Linked DNA regions of Homo sapiens. The protein of the gene in region 2 purifies or fractionates together with the protein of the main gene of each other region. This does not show direct contact. Each region holds a gene or a part of one and is shown on either strand. Other genes may lie near its edges.

Region 1 (3,500 bases), on a different chromosome or scaffold from region 2:
CTTTAATTTCATCGTAACGATTCCTTCCGTGGCCTGGCACTTCTTTATCTGGGACTGAAAGAGTTTTGCTGGGTGACACTGACTTTCTAAATATTCCAGAACTATTTCCCTGAACGTGAAGGTCAGATGTCTGCTGCGGGCGAGTTGCGCTGTGTGTGGGGTTGGTCTTTGGAAGTGATGAAGATGAATCGCTCTTGGGCAGGCACCTACCTGCTTCCAGAGATCTTTTGCCTAGGTTTTCAAAAGCCTCACTTAAACTTTTTGCTTTTGCTTTGCTGGAAGGTAAACTCAGCCTGCGGGTTTCTAAGCCCTGAAGGCCACCAGGACTCGCAGGACCCCCTCTGTACATGTTCATGGCCCAGGAGTCCGGGAGGCACATCCGGCGAGGCTGGTTCCTGGGACTCAGGCAATATTCCCGATGAAGCTGATCAAATCGGATTTCAATCTCCCTCTGACGGTTCTCTCCATGGCCCTGTCGTATTGTTGGTCTGGAAACTATTTTTACAGGAGAAATTAACCATTTTAATGTCCTAAATCTATTTTCCTCATCAAGATTATATGTTGCACTGGAGTCGAAGTAAATCAAGGAAGAATACTTCGAGGGTGTCACTTTGCGCTCCTTCCAACTTGGATCTAACTTATGGATTTGGGGTCTGTTGACTTCAAGAAAAGCTTTTTCCAATTTTAAACCTGTCTTACGGCAAGAAACATCTAATACGTTCTTGCAATCTCTTAATGCCCCTGTCCCTTTCACAGGCTCAGAGCAGGGTATGAAGTTCTCCTTGGAGCTCCTCTGAGAACGTCTGGCTCCTTTGCAATATGTTTTGTTCATCCTGCTCTTATATCTGTGCCTCCTCCTGGAGTTCCAGTTTTGCATGATGAACGTTTTGGTGGAGATGATGCTTGATGGCTTTGTGCTCAACAGCCGGCTCATGGAGTGCAGCATCCCTGCGTACAGGTCACTGATGGTCACATTGCAAATGTCATCATCTTCAAAGGGCTGGCTGCTTAAGAAGCTGCTGCTACTGGTCTCTTGTAGGGAGAGGCTGTCATTTCTAGGTACTAAGGCCATGTCTGTGGAGGAAGGATGCAAAGGATCCCATTCTCTGGGAGATGAAGCTGGTTTCGCTGGGTCACCAGGACTCTTTCTGGAGATACGACTGCAGTATCCTGGGAGAAAAGATACACATAAAGTAAAGGTGTGTTACCATTCTAAACCATCCATGTGCACAGATGACAGAACTTAAGATTGGATCAGGACTATGTTTTTTTAAGCAATAGCAAAAACAAAAACACCACAAATGTGTAGGAGTAGACTCTTCTCAGAGATATTTTTTGGTATCAAAATTTGATTTCTACTCTCCATCGTACATTTCCCAAAGGTGTCTTCCTTTCCCTCTAGGCTGTTTAGAAGATGGATGCCTTTTCAAAAGCTAATTAGAAACTGAAAAATGACAACACTGTTTACCTACATGGATGGGAAGGGGTGTAAGACTTCTAAACAAACCTCTTCATATAGCTTTGACTTTTGCATCATGTAAATGTTTCCTATATTTAAAAAAAAAAAACCAACAGTGATGGGAAAAAACCATAAAATTGAACACAAACAAAAAAAAAATCTGTATGTTAAATTGATAAAGAGAAAAAAAAAGAGTCCAAATACTCTGAGTGTCTGCCTCTTAAAGAGATATTGTCTAAGGATAAAAAGAGCTGCTTGGAAATTTTCAAGCTTATTTAGTAGATGGTTGTGAAGAGTGGTAGCAGGTGCTGCAATGCTAGAGTTATTTTATGCTGTACAATTGACCAGATGAGCACGTGTTAACTCACTGCGGCTGGTGAGAACTGGGAGAGGCAGATATGGCATCAGGGCAGGGGTGAAGAAGTGCTCAAAAACGCATGTCGTTGCACTACACGACACAAAAGCCAGCCTGAAAGGGGCTCCCTGACAGCTAAATCTGGGGTTACTTGAGCGTCAAATTGCATACCGGCAATGGATTATAACATGTGAATCAAAGAACAAAAAGACTCCATGAATTCCTACTGATCCTAAAAAATAAAAATAAAATAAATCAAAGCATGAGAGGGAACTACAGGAAGCAAAAAAAAGAACCAGAGGGGAGATAGCTCTTTTGAGCAGAATAATGCCAACTGACGTGTGCCAAGGAACGGCAGAGACAGAAACAACCTGGGCGGGGACCTCCACCCAGGCGATCCGCATTGCTGGCTTCTAAGTCACTGGGTGAGAAGCTTTTAGAGAAAAGGTTCCTAGGAGATCTCAAAGAATCACACATAGATGACTCCAGGGAAAAAGGGCCTGTCGCAATGAGAAACATCGAAGTAAGGTCTTACCTTAACTCAATGACCAGCCTAAAAGTCACCAAGAATGGGACAGACTGACCAAATGTTCTGAGAGGACACGTCATCCCTGTAGTAATTTTGCCAAAAATGTTTAACGTGAACCTAACCACGAGGAAGCAATCAGGTCCAAATTCAGGGACATTCTGCAAAATTACTGGCCTGTGCTATTCAAGAAAGGCAATAATATGAAAGGTGACCATGAGGGAGAAAATGCCAAGGAGCCGCTCTTGATGGAGGGAGACTAAACGCAACGGTGGTACCAGCCTGAGTGGGTCCGGAAACGATCAGGCAAACCAGAAAGGCTGCAAAGGACGTCACTGGCACAATGGGTAGAACAGTACCGCATCAATGTTCAATTTCTGGCCTGTGTTAAGCGTACTGTAGTCATAAAGGAGAATTAGCCGATTTTTGGAGGTATGTGTGAGGCATTTAGGGATAAATGCATACACAAATGCAAATAAATACACACTGTGTGTGCACGTGTGTGGCAGGGGGTGATAACGCAGATATGACAACATGTTAATTGTGAAACAAGTGAAGGGTGTTCACTGTACTAGTCCTGTGCTTCTGGAGATGCAAAACTTTTCAAGCTAGTAAACTGGAATAAAGAGCAGACGTGGAGGAGAAAACAGCTCATTTTGAAACATCTTAATCTTCCAGTGAAATCCAAGTATATCTCTAACAAGTTATGTTGATGAAACACACCAGGAAATGATGGCGTGGCCAGTATGAGCAGCTCTGAGGGGCCACGCAGCTCCAACAAAAGTGAAGGAAACACGCACTGTTCATACAGTTTCTATGTCACACTCACCGGGGGCAGGCACGGCAGGTGAGGCCAGTGAAGGCAGCGGAGTCACACGTACATCCCTTCCAGCTCTGTTACCTGCACACTGAAATCAGAGCCAGTGGTTACAAGAAAAAAGTTGCCAGGTGTCAACTGGGTGCAAGGAGCTGGGTTCTCCCCTGACGATGCGGACTGTGCATCTTAGCACAGCCATGTCGACAAGCGTGTGAATGTGGTGACAGTGGCCAGCTAGGCTTCGGGCAGTGGGAAGAAAATATGTCCTACTAAGATCTGGACAGTTGATGTGGTCTCCAGGATAGCTTCCAGCCACAGTCACCACTCACCTGCCAGTAACTTC
Region 2 (3,802 bases):
TTCCACTTTTCCTCTTCTACTAAGCCATAAAAATTACTTATTTAATATGTTAATTATGTCTTCCCACCATGTGAATATGAGCTACACAAGGGCAAGGATTTTTGTCCATTTTGTTCACTGCTATATTCTGAGCACCTAAAACAGTGTCTGAAACATTAAACACTTAAGACATTACAGCTTTTTAGCTAACACATAAAACTAACCTCTTAGTGAACTGTCATCTGACTGGAATGATTTGTTGTTTTCCTTTTCTTCACATAGGTAGGTATGCTGCAATTTTTTTTTTTCAACTCTGTTAGGAGTGAAGGTTTCATTATTTCCACTTTTCTGTGGTTCCAACAAACTACTGTTTCTTGATGGCTGTTCTTGCTTGTCACGCAGTACTTTTTCTTTCATTCTTAGAAATATTTTTCCTGGTGATTCATAGTTTGCTTTATTTTTTAATCCATCCTTGTTGGGCTTTATAGCACTGATATCAAGAGAACTGTTAGAGGTAGTAGCCTCTGTTAGCATAGTTGATTGAAATATATTTTTATTGTTAAAAGTTGTCATTTTTAGGAACTGATTCTTTTTATGGTCATTCAATTTTAAGGAGGAGTTCTGATATTTCACCAAATCTTTTACAGGAGTAAGTGTGCCTGAAGGAATGCTGTCAAAAAAGATTGCATCCATGGGTAGATTTCTCCTTTGAGAAGATGCCTCTGGAGGTAAGTAAATTCTTGAATGTTTCAAAGGTGTTGCAATCATCTTGACAAGAAAGTAGCAACCAAGTTCTTCTAACAGAAAATTCACTTAAGCGCAATTTTCAGATAGAACTTCAGAAGGGATCCACAGAAACCTGTAGTTCAACGTAAAATCAGCCTTTATCATGCTTTGGTGCAGAAAATGTTTAAAGTTTATTTGCTTTCCACAACATTATACTAATTAAAATGTTTAACTGGTTCATAACAATACTAGATAATCACAAATCAGACTAAGATTTTATTTTTGTTAAAGTCTCCTTAACAAAAGAGCTGGGTGTGATGGTGTACACGCCTGTAGTCCTAGCTACTTGGGAGGCTGAGCAGGGAGGATCACTTGAGCCTGGGAGGTCAAGGCCACAGTGAGTCATGATTGTGCCACTGCATTCCAGCCTGGGTGACAGAGCAAGACCTTGTCTCAAAATAAAATAAAATAAAATAAAACAAAATAAAAGATATATGCATATGGCACTACATTAGGTTACAAAAGATAAAGTTCCACAAATATAATTTTTCCCTTTAGGCAGTTAAATTTTAAGGCAGCAACTACAAGATCTATTCTAATAAAAGCTAAAAAAATACTATTCAATTAGTTAATAATACCCAATCCTGATTTTTTATGCTCCAGAGCATTTACATTTTAAGGTCTTAGTTGAAAAATCCTCAAATAAATGGTAAATTGTTTTCATTCTGATTTTTTTTAATGTAGTGCTATTTAGAATTTTTAGCAGAAATACTGTACTTGAGTTTACGTAGTTTTAGTCTTGTTTCTTTCGTTTTTTTTTTTTTTTTTTCTTTTTTTGGAGACAGAGTTTCCCTCTTGTTGCCCAGGCTGGAGTGCAGTGGTGATCTCAGCTCACCACAACCTCCGCCTCCCAGGTTCAAGCAATTCTCCTGCCTCAGCCTCCCGAGTAGCTGGAATTGGAATTATGTATGCACCACCACACCCGGCTAATTTTGTATTTTTGCTAGAGACAGGGTTTCTCCATGTTGGTCAGGCTGGTCTCAAACTCCTGACCTCAGGTGATCTGCCTGTCTTGGCCTCCCAAAGTGCTGGGGTTACAGGTGTGAGCCACCGCGCCCGGCCACAACTTGTTTCTTATGTATAAATTTTATTATTCACACCTAGAAATTAAGGTTCTAGGTAAGGAACCATATAGTTGCATTAACTAATATTTGGTAAATAAATAAAACATTTCAATCCAAGGAGCCTGGAACTTACTAGTCTAGATTTACAGCATCTCTTATAGCTGAATTTATAACTATTCCAATTAGTTAACATCATATAAACATAAAAAAAAACTATCACAGAAAATTCTAACATAGCCAGACCAAAAAATATCAAGTATCTTTATCTACAGCAACTTCTGTGAGAAATAAGCAATTAATATACAAAGTATTATTTAATCCAATAATTTATGATAATAGAGAAAAAAAGAAGGAAAATATTCCTAAATTACAACAGCCAACAAAGAAGGCTATCTTGGGAGTCTGGAGTTCCTAAAAACCACTATAATTCTTTCATAACATACGAATCCTGCAAATACATATTAACGCATGCATGTATATGTTTATGATGTGCTAGTTCCAGGGGTTCTGTATTAGAAGTTATAATATTAGCCGTTCACTTCATTTCTGTTTTATTTTTGAGACAGTGTCTCTGTCACCCAGGCTGGAGTGCAGTGGTGTGATCAGGGCTCCCTGCAACCTCGAAATCCTGGGCTCAAGCAATCCTCCTACCTCAGCCTCCAGAGTAGCTGGGACCACAAGTGTGTGCCACTGCACCTCAGCTATGTTTTTTTTTTTTTACTTATTTGTTTGTTTGTTTCTGAGAGGGAGTCTTGCTCTGTTGCCCAGGCTGGAGTGCAGTGATGCGATCTTGACTCACTGCAATCTCCACCTCATGGGTTCAAGCAATTCTCCTGTCTTAGCTTCCCAAGTAGCTGGGATCACAGGCACATGCCACCCCACCCGGCTAATTTTTGTATTTTTAGTAGAGACGGGGTTTCACCATATTGGTCAGGCTGGTCTCCTGACCTCAGGTGATCCACTTGCCTCAGCCTCCCAAAGTGCTGGGATTACAGGCATGAGCCACCTGAGTTATGTTTTTTTACATTTTTTTGTAGAGACAGAGTTTCCCTATGTTGCCCAGGTTAGTCTCAAACTCCTGGGCTCAAGTGATCCTTCTGATTTGGCCTCCCACAAGTGTTGGGAATACAGGAGTGAGCCACCATGTCTGGCTTAGCTGTTCATTTCAAAGAAAGGCAATAAAGCTATACAATCTCTCAAAATCAAAAATGAATAAACTCGGCTGAGCACAGTGGCTCACGCCTATAATCCCAGCACTTTGGGAGGCCAAGGCAGGAGAATCACTTGAGGTCAGGGGTTCAAGACCAGCCTGGCCAACACGGTGAATCCCCGTCTTTACTAAAAATGTAAAAATTAGCCGGATGTGGTGGCACATGCCTGTAGTCCCAGCTACTCAGGAGGCTGAGGCAGGAGAATCACTTGAACCTGGGAGGCGGAGGTTGCAGTGAGCTGAGATCGCACCACCACTGCACTCCAGCCTAGGCGACGGAGTGAGACTCCAACTGAAAATAATAATAATAATAAAAATAAACTGGAAGACTGCAAAACAAAATGGCAAAGAATGTTCAGGTTTACACAATCTCAATTCCTCAGAGCCTAATGAAATGCTAAACAGAAAGTAAAAAATGCAAATAAGCGAGCAGCACTGAAAACAGAACCAACCTGTAATGGACATGCAGAACTGTCTTCATTTAAAGTCAGATAATTGTGGTCACGTTGAAAGGCTCCAAGAACCAAAACAGAGCTTTCTGTTTCCTAATGTCCCTGCCCCTAATTCAGGCAAGTAGTAGGATAAAGGTGATTAGCCAAGATTCTGAAAAAATCCTCAAATTCCACTTCCCCTCCCAAAGAAACAGAAAGTTGCTCTAGGAGACCTTTTTCCCACCATGTGATAAACAGCAACTCAATATAAGCCAAGAAAAAAATCGTCTACAATTTCCTCTGACCACAGAGGCTCTGCAGAATAGATAAAC

What was found.
Region 1: the proteins of MIS18BP1 (region 2) and HJURP purify together in Homo sapiens (affinity purification with western blotting, with the first as the bait; one study listed by BioGRID). This does not show direct contact.

What each region holds. Positions count from the first base shown.
Region 1 is NC_000002.12:233,841,036-233,844,535, forward strand, and holds part of HJURP (Holliday junction recognition protein), read right to left. Parts: intron 3,249-3,500; coding exon 3,170-3,248; intron 1,171-3,169; coding exon 1-1,170. UniProt on the Homo sapiens protein: Centromeric protein that plays a central role in the incorporation and maintenance of histone H3-like variant CENPA at centromeres.
Region 2 is NC_000014.9:45,246,540-45,250,341, forward strand, and holds part of MIS18BP1 (mis18-binding protein 1), read right to left. Parts: intron 3,600-3,802; exon of another isoform or gene 3,492-3,599; intron 839-3,491; 5' UTR 748-838; coding exon 204-747; intron 1-203. UniProt on the Homo sapiens protein: Required for recruitment of CENPA to centromeres and normal chromosome segregation during mitosis.